Regions from separate parts of the Homo sapiens genome. Here all the other regions are linked to region 1. Evidence: fine-mapped expression QTL. A gene starts in region 1. Each other region holds a variant in brackets. All regions are shown on one strand. Distances are between the middles of the regions. Region 1 holds the start of SLC35C1 (solute carrier family 35 member C1). Region 2 has its middle 14 kb from the start of LINC02690. Region 3 holds the start of LINC02690 (long intergenic non-protein coding RNA 2690).

What was found. PIP is the estimated chance that this variant, and not a neighbour inherited with it, causes the effect.
Region 2: its variant is fine-mapped to the expression of SLC35C1 in whole blood (TOPMed, PIP 0.98).
Region 3: its variant is fine-mapped to the expression of SLC35C1 in whole blood (TOPMed, PIP 0.92).

Annotation. Positions count from the first base shown.
Region 1 is chr11:45,802,758-45,806,993 of GRCh38, reverse strand. It overlaps SLC35C1 (solute carrier family 35 member C1), which reads right to left and starts at 1,845. Exons shown (of 2, transcript NM_018389.5): 1 at 658-1,845. The coding sequence starts at 1,192. RefSeq lists silencers at 1,591-1,820, 2,551-2,720 and an enhancer at 2,891-3,050.
Region 2 is chr11:45,735,096-45,739,331 of GRCh38, reverse strand. No RefSeq gene overlaps it. Among named protein-coding and RNA genes, the nearest start is that of LINC02690, 14 kb to the left of the region's middle. The variant C/T (reference allele first, on the strand shown) is at 2,556.
Region 3 is chr11:45,751,241-45,755,476 of GRCh38, reverse strand. It overlaps LINC02690 (long intergenic non-protein coding RNA 2690), which reads left to right and starts at 3,869. Exons shown (of 2, transcript NR_183774.1): 1 at 3,869-3,966. The variant G/A (reference allele first, on the strand shown) is at 2,261.

The DNA of each region.
Region 1 (4,236 bases):
TTATTATTTTCTGAGGGTCAAGTCCAGGAAGACAGCTGAGGCCTCTCAAAGCATATTGCTTGCTACTGTCTCAGGCGCTATCCTGAGCTGGCAGAGAGTGATGGTATATTTATTAAAAGACGTATTGTCCTCTACTAAGAGCACTGGCTGGGAAATCAGGACACCTGAGCTCTTGAGAAACAATAAAGTACAGTGGTCGGGCATGTGAACTGTGAAGCCAGATTGCTTGAGTTCAGATCCCAGCTCTGCCACTTATTAGCTGGGTGATCTTGGACAAGTTAGTTAACTTCTCTGTGCCTTGGTTTTTCCCTCTGTAAAATGTGGATTATAATCCCATCTTGTTATGAAGATTAGCTGAGTTAATATGGCTAAGATCCATGTGCCTGGCACATTTTAATCACTCAACAAATGTCAGTTGCTTTTGCTGCTGTTGTTACTATTATTATTACTATTGTTCTTGCCCCGGCTGGGCTCCTAACTTGCTGGGTGACCTTTAGTAAGTTACTTGCTCTCTCTGTGCCCCCAGGCTCTTTCTCCTATGACTGCTGCACCAAAGGAGCTGGGACAGATGAAGTCCTAGGATGCCTAGAAGAGTTGTTCTTCACTGCTTCAGTCCCCATGACCACTCTATCCCCCGTGGCCCCAGCTGCCACTCACCGATGATGATACCGCAGGTGAGCAGGGCATAGAAGGAGGTGGTCTGCTTGAGCAGCAGGTAGGAGAGCAGCACGTTGAAGACGGTGGTGAGTGAGCGGCCCACATTGTAGAAGGCCACACCGACGTACTTGAGGCAGAGGTTATTGAAGGTGATCATGCCGATGAAGACCACCGACAGGGGCAGGACGCTGCGGGCCACCCTGAGGTCCAGGCGCAAGCTGGGGAAGTCCACGGCACCAGGGCAGCAGGCGGCCAGAGCGCTGAGGCCTTTGCACAGCAGCGTGGTCACCAGGCACTGGTAGAAGGTGACGAAGATGGGGGTGTCCAGCCGCAGGGAGGGGCTGTCCAGCAGGTACTTATTAAGGAACACCATGGAGATGGAGGTGACCCAGTAGAGGGAGACCACCAGCGCGATCTGCAATGCCCGCAGCAGAAAGGGCTTCTCCCCGTTGGCCTCTGCCTCTGCAGAGGGGTCTGAGGCCCCGGTCAGCGCCATGTGCAGGATCCTGGACCGCTTCAGAGGGGCCCTATTCATGGTAGCAGAGGAGCTGGGTCACCCCGCGGCCAGAACTCTGATTCCCTGGAGTCCAGGGCAGTGAGCTCACTTGTGCTCTCCGCAAGGAAGCCGCAGCCCTCCATTGTCACATGTGGGCTGGCCTAAAGGCCTCCCCATTGTCCTCATGGATTGAGAAGTTCTGCTTTGGGGTGAGCCCAGTTGTGCTGCTCCACAACCTACTCCCACCCCGAGGGGGCTCTGAGACAAGACACAGGGCAAGGGAGAGGAATAGGATAAGGCGGTGAGGCCAGGACAGAGAAGACCTGTGAGGGGAGAAGAGGCTGGGGCCTAACAGGGAGGGGTCGCAGAGAGAAGGGAGGGGAGAGGAATGGCAGGGCGGGGCAGGAGTAGGTACGCGGGGCGAAGGTGCAGGAAAAGGACGCGTGGCAGAGTGGGAAGAGGTGCCGAGAGGGCGTCATGGGCGGCTGTGGGAGGGAGGGGCGGGCAGGGGGAGGGAGGCGTACAGGGAGCTGCCGGAGGCCGGGCGCGGCTGGAGGGAGGGCTGCGGAAGGGTCAGAGGGGCTCGGGGCTTGGGGCTGAAGGACGCGGGAGGGGGCTGGGCCGGCGCCCACGTCTCGCTGCCTTCCCGGGCTCTGTCGCCGGCTCAGCCCAGGAGCCTCCGGACATCCGAGGCCGACTCCCCGGGAGGCGGGCCCTGGACTCACTTCCTGACACGCCCCCACGTGGCCTTAAAGGGCCCGCACGCCCCGCCTTGCCCTTAAAGCGACAGCCCCAGAGAGGCGGAGTTCGCCAGTCCCCAGCCCCGCCCCTGCGCTCCGCTGCCCGCTGCTGGCGGGGGACCTCGGCAGCCACAGGTTTTTCTGGGTGCTTGAGCCTCGCCCTGCTTCCTGGAAGGGCTCCATCAACCTCGCCTGCCCACCCTCAGCTCCGTCCGCCCCGGAGCCTCCGTCCCCCGACTTGGCTAGGCTTGGCTCGCAGGTCCACTTCCCGGAACCCCGACCCAGGACCCGGGCGGCGCTACATCAGCCTGGACCCCTCCACCTCCGGAGACTCGCGTTGCAGCCCCGCGTCCCTCTGCCAATCCGAGCTCACTCTTCCATAACAATGTTGTGGTCCCCTCCTTTCCCCCCATTTTCACCGCCCCCAGGCCCTCTCCCAAGCCCGAGACCCCCGGCAGCGCTCCCCGAGGCCGGAGGCCACGCCGCCTCTCTCGGACTTCAGTTTGTCCTCCCTGTGCTCCTGTCGAGGTCCTCTGGGCGGCCCGGATCCGAGATTCCAAAGGCTCAAGACAGCATCTCTTACCCCTTCCAGAAAATACTGTTTCCCCGGCCGGTCCAGCCGCATCAGCTCCCGCGTCCCTGCCTGTGTCCCCGGGCCGCGAAGGCGACCTGGCGCTCACCTCCTCCGGTGCACTGGGCGCCCGCCCCGCGACCCCGTGCTGCATCTGCAGCGCCGCACCCTGGGCCGCGCCCGCGGGATCGACTTCCTGCTTTCCGCCCCGGGCCCGGGCACCTTGCCAGCCTCGCCGGCCTGTTCGCGGCATGGGCCCCGGGGGTGCCGGCGGAGAGGCGGTGATCCGGACGGTCGTGGGAGGAGGCCCTCTCCTCTTTCCAAGGCTACTCCTGTCCCTGGTACCCCCGCCCGCCCGGGACCCGGCTTCAGTTACCGCAGCTGGCACGTCCCGGGACTTGGCTGTATCCCTGGCCCGCCGCGCTACCGGCTTGCACTTCCAGAAGTGCGTGCGGGGACCGCTCGGATTCTTCCAGCTGGCAGTGAGGGGGAGGGTTCCCCGCCCCTTCCAGGGCCGGGGCCTGGGAAGTCTAGCCTGTGGTCTGCCACTCACCAGGCAGCCGGGGAGACCAGGAGGATCGACTTCTCTTGGTTCGCGCTCTAGCACCTGCGTTGGGCAGGCCACTTTCTCCGACGGCCTGAGTTATCTTCATGGTAAAACTAAGGGGCTAGGCTTGACCTGTGGGTCCCAACCTTCTTGCCCAGAACTCTAGGTGGTATGGTCGAACATAGATGTTTGTAATATTTCAAGCACCATTTAATTAGTGCCATTTAATTAACGGGTAAGATGATGTCATGGCTGGGATTTGTTTTAAAATACTAAGAATACTTACCAAAAATATTTTTTATTTTTATTTATTTATTCTTTTTGGGACGGAGTCTCGCTCCGTCGCCCAGGCTGGAGTGCAGTGGTGCTATTTCAGCTCACTGCAACCTCCGTCTCCCGGGTTCAAGCGATTCTCCTGCCTCAGCCTCCCGAATAGCTGGAATTACAGGCGTCCACCACCACGCCCGGTTATTTTTTGTATTTTTAGTAGAGACCGGGTTTCGCCGTGTTGGCCAGGCTGTTCTCTAACTCCTGACCTCAGGTGATCCGCCGGCCTCGGCCTCCCAAAGTGCTGGGATTACAAGCGTGAGCCACCGTGCCTGACCTCAAAAAGATTTTTTTTAAAAGGTTGATAGATTAAATAAGATAAGCCATTGATAGTTGTAGCTAGGCGTAGATACACAAGGACCCATTATAAGAGTTTCCTTACTTTTGTGTACATTTGCAAATTTCCAGAATAAAAAGGTAAAACCTATATAGTACGCTTAAACTCTCAGATCCTAACTGCACAAACCTTCACTGGAGCTGAGCGCAGCCCTGGGTGGGCTGTAGGGAAATGGGAGGGCTGCAGGCTGCAGTGAAGTAAACAGCTGCCCCACAACGAGCCGGGCCCACACCCTACCCTCTTCCACTAGCCCCGGGTACTAGCACTCCCCTCTTCCTCCTCAAGGAATGAGACTCTGCTTCCTAGTTGTGGGCTGTTCTCCACCTGGAGGATACCATCTGGTTACCTTGTCACTTTTGGAACTAAAATATCCCTTTGGGGAAAGAAAGACTCAAGAGGGACTGAGCTGGTCTCCTCAACCCCACCTGGAGAGTCTACCTCTGGGATTTTCCTTTGAAGCTGTGGGTTTTGGTTCATTAAGAGCAATTCGTATCTGTTCCAGTCTCTCCTCTCTTATGCCCGAGAGTTCACCATGACAAACAATTTAGTGACAGACAGGGC
Region 2 (4,236 bases), 68 kb after region 1:
TTTAAGTATGTTATGATGGTCATATTTTCAGTTACATTTTACCCATAAAAACAATGTTTTAAATCCAGCAAAAATAGAGTCTTTGCCGCCGCGCCGGCGAGCGCCGCCCGGGAGGCAGCGGCTGGAGGAGCGGACGGGCCCCGCGGGGCCCGAGGGCAAGGAGCAGCCGCCTGCCTTGGCCTCCCAAAGTGCCGAGATTGCAGCCTCTGCCCGGCTGCCACCCCGTCTGGGAAGTGAGGAGTGTTTCTGCCTGGCCGCCCATCGTCTGGGATGTGAGGAGCCCCTCTGCCTGGCTGCCCAGTCTGGAAAGTGAGGAGCGTCTCCGCCCGGCCGCCATCCCATCTAGGAAGTGAGGAGCGCCTCTTCCCAGCCGCCATCACATCTAGGAAGTGAGGAGCGTCTCTGCCCGGCCGCCCATCGTCTGAGATGTGGGGAGCGCCTCTGCCCCGCTGCCCCATCTGGGATGTGAGGAGCGCCTCTGCCCGGCCGAGACCCCGTCTGGGAGGTGAGGAGCGTCTCTGCCCGGCCGCCCCGTCTGAGAAGTGAGGAGACCCTCTGTCTGGCAACCACCCCGTCTGAGAAGTGAGGAGCCCCTCCGCCCGGCAGCTGCCCCGTCTGAGAAGGGAGGAGCCTCTCCGCCCGGCAGCCACCCCATCTGGGAAGTGAGGAGCGTCTCCGCCCGGCAGCCACCCCGTCCGGCAGGGAGGTGGGGGGGGGGTCAGCCTCCCGCCCGGCCAGCCGCCCCATCCGGGAGGGAGGTGGGGGGGTCAGCCCCCCGCCTGGCCAGCCGTGCCGTCCGGGAGGGAGGTGGGGGGGTCAGCCCCCCGCCCGGCCAGCCGCCCCGTCCGGGAGGTGAGGGGCGCCTCTGCCCGGCCGCCCCTACTGGGAAGTGAGGAGCCCCTCTGCCCGGCCAGCCGCCCCGCCCGGGAGAGAGGTGGGGGTGTCAGCCCCCCGCCCGGCCAGCCGCCCCGTCCGGGAGGGAGGTGGTGGGGGTCAGCCCCCGCACCCGGCCAGCCGCCCCGTCCGGGAGGTGAGGGGCGCCTCTGCCCGGCCGCCCCTACTGGGAAGTGAGGAGCCCCTCTGCCCGGCCAGCCGCCCCGTCCGGGAGGGAGGTTGGGGGGTCAGCCCCCCGCCCGGCCAGCCGCCCCGTCCGGGAGGGAGGTGGGGGGGGTCAGCCCCCCTGCCCGGCCAGCCGCCCCGTCCGGGAGGTGAGGGGCGCCTCTGCCCGGCCGCCCCTACTGGGAAGTGAGGAGCCCCTCTGCCCGGCCACCACCCCGTCTGGGAGGTGTGCCCAACAGCTCATTGAGAACGGGCCAGGATGACAATGGCGGCTTTGTGGAATAGAAAGGCGGGAAAGGTGGGGAAAAGATTGAGAAATCGGATGGTTGCCGTGTCTGTGTAGAAAGAAGTAGACATGGGAGACTTTTCATTTTGTTCTGCACTAAGAAAAATTCCTCTGCCTTGGGTTCCTGTTGATCTGTGACCTTACCCCCAACCCTGTGCTCTCTGAAACATGTGCTGTGTCCACTCAGGGTTAAATGGATTAAGGGCGGTGCAAGATGTGCTTTGTTAAACAGATGCTTGAAGGCAGCATGCTCGTTAAGAGTCATCACCAATCCCTAATCTCAAGTAATCAGGGACACAAACACTGCGGAAGGCCGCAGGGTCCTCTGCCTAGGAAAACCAGAGACCTTTGTTCACTTGTTTATCTGCTGACCTTCCCTCCACTATTGTCCCATGACCCTGCCAAATCCCCCTCTGTGAGAAACACCCAAGAATTATCAATAAAAAAATAAATTAAAAAAAAAAATAAATAAATAAATCCAGCAAAAATAAAAATAAAAAATAAAATCCCCTTGAATACATTTGAGGTAATGTTGTAGTTTTCAGCTCCTCCCACGAGAGATTTTATGGAGTGCCTAACTGTGCTACCCGGGTGCTGCTCCTGTCGTTAGTGGTGGCACCCAGGAGGAATTAAAATTACAAGAGTGTTTCCTTCCAGATGTTGTTGCTACAGGCTCAAGGTGCTCTTTTAACTGGGACATCAGGCTTTCTTGAAATAGACAAGAATTCTAGAAACATGACATTGTGCCTGATTCATCGCTTCAACTTGCCACTGACTCATTCTCTCCTTGATAGGTTATTCAACAGTAACTTTAATTACATCATTTACTTATTGTTTTCTTCCTTGATTTATTCTCTTTCTACAATTCTTGTTTATCATCTCAGTGATTGGACCATCTCACCTCTGAGACTTGGGTAGAATTCTGTGGACTCTGGAAATAGACATGGAGGTTTTCATGTATCTCTGTTAATGTGTACAAACACCCCCAGGCTTGTACACTTGAAATACATCAGTAGGAAGGGTAGTTCTCAATTTGCTAGTGTTTCACACAGCTTGTCTTATTTAATGATCTCAGCTGCCCTATGAAGTAGATACCATCCTATTAAAAAATGCAGGAGCAGAGGCTCTGAGAGGGGACTGTAACTTACCCAAGATCATGTGGTAGATTGCAAAACTGGTTCCAAATCCCTACCCTTCCCTGTACGCACAC[C/T]TTTTGCCATTCATCTGCAATGTCCTTTTCTGATTCTGGGCTCAGCAATATAACTTGCTCTGGCCAACAGGATAACAACAGCAAATGTGATGTAAGCAAAAGCTTGAGAAATACTTGTGCAACTAATCATGTTTGCCTTCTCTCTTGTACCTGTGCCATTGCCATGAGAACATGCCTGGGCTAGGATTAGAGACACTTGGAGCAGAGCTGAGTCATCCCAGCTGTCCCAGTTGAGGCCAGCCTAGGTCAGTCGATGGCAACCAAGCCCTAAGCATGTTAGTGAGCCCAGCCATGATCAGCACAACCACCTAGCCAACCATCCCAGACCTGTGATCAATAAAGCCTTACTATTCCATACCACCTAGGTTTTGTGATTATTTATTTCACAGAATTATTATGGCAGTATGTAACTGATAGAAGCGGTGTACAGGGAAGAGTATTTGTTAGTCCGTTTTCACACTGCTGATAAAGACATATGCGAGACTGAGCAATTTACAAAAGAAAGAGGTTTAATGGACTTACAGTTCCACGTGGCTGGGGAAGCCTCACAATTGTGGTGAAAGGTGAAAGTCACATCTCACATGGCAGCAGACAAGAGAAGAAGAGCTTGTGCAGGGAAACTCCCCTTTTAAAAACCATCAGATCTCATGATACTTATTCACTATCATCAGAATAGCCTGGGAAAGACCTGTCCCCATGATTCAGTTACTTCCCACCGTGTCACTCCCACAACAAGTGGGAATTCAAGATGAGATTTGGGTAGGGACACAGCAAAACCATATTAGAGCAGATCTCTGGAATTGGGCAGGCCAAGGTTTGAATCCCATCTGTTATTTGGAGTGTGTGTTTCTTTTTGAGACTAATCTCCTTACCCTTGAAATGAGGTAATATACTTCCCTCATAGGGTTGCTGGGAAGATTAAACACGAGGTGAAGTAAATAAAGCCCCAGGGACATAAGCAAAAAATAATGGCTTCTCACAGCAATGCTCCAGAACATACAACAAGGGAATACTGGGCCCAGTCCCAGGACTATCCAAGTGTGAAGCCAACACCTTTTCACATCAACTCCAAGGTAAGGATTAAGAACAGAATGGCCTGGTTCTAATCTTACCATGAAATGCTGCTCCCCTGAATCTTCCATTGCAGTATAGAGAGCAGGACAGGCCTTTAAAAAATTAATGTTGCTTAAATTTAGGAGCCTGAAAAAAAAGCCAAATCCAAGATTTTCCTTTGGACTTGTGGTTTTGCCAGATAGGTGGCAGTGATTTCGGGAAGGAGGGTTGCTTTTGTCCTGGGTATGGGTGTGTTTCAAAGTCCTCCGGGCACAGTTGGGAGCAGGGGCCAGCCTGGCTGCGTTTGCCCTGACTCTGTTGGTTGCCCCTCTGCATGCACATGCATTTTTGATGACAGATCATTCAGGAAATGTGAATGTTTCCCTGGGAGGCTTTGCTTTTTTCACCTGGCCTTCTTTTCTGGGCCTCCTGTGGGGCTGCCCTTTCCCTTCCTTTGAAGCCATTGTCTTCTTGACATGAAAAATGTACTCAGGTACGCTTATGGCTAATTATCTCAAGGGGGAAGAAAAAACAAAATGAACTCAAGGCTGAAATATAGAACCATTAACTCTGTAAACTCTGAAAAGTCATAAGACACTTTTTTAAAATTAAAAAAATACATATACAT
Region 3 (4,236 bases), 52 kb after region 1:
CGGGGATCCAAGAGTGGCTGGAACATCTGTGTCTTGGCTGTTCCAGATGCCTGACCCTGCGCCCACCTGAAAACGACGGGTCCAGAGCCACAGACAAGCTCTGATGCAGCCGAGGCTTGGTCCTTGACTTGCCAGCTGAGACTACAACTAACAGTCCCACAGAACTTGGCCCCATCAGCTCGCTGTATTCCGAAGCCCAGGAAAAGGCAGATGCTTCTGCTGTGAGTTGATAGACAGAGGCAAGATGCTGCCCCAGGATGTATTCTTCATCTGATTGTCTGAAATCCCATCTTCAGTGCTCTGTTTCTACTGCTCAGGTCAGCATTTGCAAGAATGTGTTCCACAAAACCCAAGTTCTGCAGGCTGTTAAGAAGTTGTGTGTAAAAGGCGGTTCCATGGCCATGTACTTGGGAGAGATGTTGAACAGAGCTAAGCAGGACTTCCCAGGCAGGGCCTTGAGTAATTTAATAGGCACAGCGATTCATCAGAAGCGGGAGGGATAAAGTCTGGAGTATTTCCTAAGCTTGTTTGACATGTAACCCTGTTCTCATGGAGTATCTTTTTGGACCAGTGCGAACGGATCTAACTGTATTCTAGCAGCTGCTGGTACCTCTGTCCAGGCGCTGGCGTGAGATGGACACTTAATACATATGGATTGAGTCTGAATCTCTCAGAACCTGCTTCCTGTAAAATGGAATAGCAGCACCTGTCCTGAGTGTTTTTGTTTTAATTTTTGAAAGTCAAATGAGAGGCCTGTGTGTGGGAGTAGTTGCAAGCTGAATAGTTGCACATATTTCGGGAATGATTACGATCAGCCCTGTCTCTTCTTTTAACTAATCTGATAAATGTAGACATGCTGACAGTTTTGTGATAATACTCCCCCGCCTGGGGCTTTTCCATTTTCCTCTCCAGGAAGAGGGCCGTGTTTAGCATAGCATTCCTCAGTGTGAGTTCATGCCTTCATGGGCCTTATCACATGGGAGTGCTAGTGGCAAGCTCAAGGCCAGCTTGCTGAGTGGCAGGACAGAAAGGCAGTAGATTCCAGGGCTCTTGACTCCTGAGTCCAGCGCTGTGCTTGTCCCAGTGCTGCCATGGTGCCAGGTGTGGGACAGGACACTGGGGAGGCACGCACGTGACAGAGGCACTTCCTGGACCAGCTCGTGGTGGCACCTTGCCCACCACCAGACACCCCTCCCAGGGCCTGAGCACTGCCCCAAGCTCCCTGCAGGACAGCCATGCTCGAGTCTGGGACCAAGAGTGCTCTCTTTAAGGAGGCTGGGATCTCAGAGTGGGACTCTCAGCATCCAGATACCAAAGGGGGTCGTCCTCTTCCTCCCTCTTTTCTTCCTGCAGGGGTTTCTTGGGCCACAGCCTCACCTTTGCCCATCCCCCTCAGTTGGGAATTGTCTGAATTAAGAGTTAAAAAAGGTCAGATCTTGGAAGGATTGAGCCTCCTCTCCCAGGAGGCCCAGAGAAAACTTCAAGTCATAAACCTATTGTCCTGGAAACCCTCACTTCCCCTAGCTGTGCCTCGGTTTCCCCATCTGTAAGCTGAGGAACCTCATCTAGCTCTAGAAAGTAAGTCTATGGATTGAGAAACATCATAAACTCCTGCCATTTACATATGAAATACTTCTTGTAATTCCCTCTCCCCTCCGTCCACCCTCCTGTGGGGTCCTCCTCGTGTCACTCCTGTGTGATTACAGTAGCTTCCTAAGGTGTCTCCTGGACTCTAGTACTTCTCCTTCACGTCTGCCTGGAGAAATCTTTGTAGGTTCTGCTCTCCTCATGTCCTTTCCCTACTTTCAAACTTGGGATGGCTTCCTGCTGCTCCTGTGTAAGGTCTGTGTCACATCTCTTCACCTCTGCCACAGAGACCACTTGGGATTTTCTAGAGTACTGGAAGTTTTACTCTTCCTAGCCTTTGCTTTTGCCATTTCTTCAGCTAAAATGCCTTTCCTCCTTCTCCTGATGATGACATTTTCTGCAACCTGCAAGACCTAACTTCTTCCCACCCATCTTACTTCTCCTCTTCTCCCTTGATGCTCCTATTGTAAGTGCCTTTGTGCTTTTTTTTTTTTTTTTTTTTGAGACACAGTCTTGCTCTGTCATCTAGGCTGGAGTACAGTGGCACAATCAAGGCTCACTGCAACCTCCATCTCCTGAGTGTGAGAGATTCTCCTGCCTCAGCCTCCCGAGTAGCTGGGATTACAGGCACTGGCCACCATGCCCAGCTAATTTTTGTATTTTTAGTAGAGAC[G/A]GGTTTTCACCATGTTGGCCAGGCTGGTCTCGAAATCCTGACCTCAAGTGATTCACCCGCCTTGACCTTCCAAAGTGCCGGGATTACAGGTATGAGCCACCGCGCCTGGCCTGTGCTGGTTTTTTTTTTTTTTTTTTTTTTGCATTGTATCATAACCAGTTAACGTACTTGATTTTCATCACTATAAATCCCATTGTATGACCAATCATCCCAAACATTTAGCATTTTCCTTAAGTTATAAAAGTAAACCAGGCGCGGTAGATCACTCCTGTAATCTCAGCACTTCGGGAGGCCAAGGCGGAGGATCGCTTGAAGCTAGGAGTTCAAGACTAGCCCTGGCAACATAGCGATAATCCGTCTCTACAAAAAATACAAAAACACTTTGGGAGGCCCAGGCGGGTGGATCACCTGAGGTTGGGAGTTCAAGACCAGCCTGGCCAACATGGCGATACCCTGTCTCTACTAAAAAATACAAAAATTAGCCAGGCGTGGTGGCGGGTACCTGTAATCCCAGCTACTCAGGAGGCTGAGGCACAAGAATTGCTTGAACCCGAAAGGCGGGGGTTGCAGTGAGCCGAGATAGTGCCACTGCACCCCAGCTTGGATGACAGAGTAATACTTCATTTCAAAAAAAGGAAAAAAAAACCCCCAAAAACAAAAAAACTAAACAAATACAAAAAATTAACTGGGCAGGTGGCACACACCTATAGTCCCAGCTACTCAGGAGGCTGAACTCAGGAGGCTGAGGGGAGGATTACTTGAGCCTGGAAGGTCAAGGCTGCAGTGAGCCGTGATGTGCCACTGCACTCCAGTTTGGGTGACAAAGCAAGAGCCCGTCTCTCTTGGGGGCGGGAGGGAAGCGCACTCTTGTAACATCTCCAAATGGTTGAGAAGTAAAGTGAAACGCCCCCCTTCTCTAACCCTATTGGTCAGTCCTGCGACTCCTGGGTAATGGCTGCTAATGGTTCCTTATGTGTTCTTCCGCCCGTACGCCTTTGCATTTTCAACGTGTATGCATGTACCAAAATTGATGTAACTGGCCTCCATTACGGGACATTTAGGTTGTTTTCCATTATCTACTGCTGTAAATAATGCTGCAAAGATCACCTTCAGATTCAAATATTTCTGCAGGCAGCGTCTTAGAAATGGGATTGCTGGGTCACAGAGAACATCCACTTAAAATTTTTAATGAACACTGCCAAACCGTCGTCAGGGAAGACTTCCAGCAAGTCTCGTACTGATGTGGAAATATCTGTTCTCCTCCTTTGAAAGTGGGTCTGGATCTTAATTTGTCGCTGTGGCCCTGGCATGTAGTAGGCTCAGTAAATGCTTGCTGAGTGACCCTACGGGTTATCAAGCCCTGGCTCTCTATTTTCTCAGAAAAAAAGCAGCCCTTCTGCCCCTAAAAAAAGTCTACAAAGTCAATCGTGAGACCAGACCTTGACCTGTTCCGTTTGGCGCTCTGGATTGCGGAGCATACCGAGGAGTCCTGGGTACTTTCTTTGTTAAGTGGGGTGTGTGTGGTTTTTGTTTTCAAAGCTGGCCTGGAGGCTCTGGGTTGCCATGGCAACTGATGAGCAGGGCCGCCTTTTCCCTTCCCTCCATCTTGGGAGCCCTGGTTGCCATAACAACTGATTGGTCCTCTCCTCTTCCTCCACCTCTGCCACAGGGCTCCAGCTTCCCTCTGGGGGCACCACTGTTCTTAGGTCTGGGGCAACCCTGATTTCACTTGACCCATGTACCTTGGGACCCTCTTGAGAGGAGATGTGAGCGAGGCCATTACTGGGGAGGGTGACGGCAGAAAACAGCATGGCCACTGGGAAGGGGAGAGGGCTCAGGTGGAGGAAGAGTGAGGTTCCCTGCTCCGACCTAGCTTGGGAGAATCAGTGTTGCCTGGGGACCAGAGGGGGAAGCAAGTTCCTCTGAGGTTCAGGGGTGGTTTTGGGGATCAGTGAGTTACAGGGACTGTGAGGTCT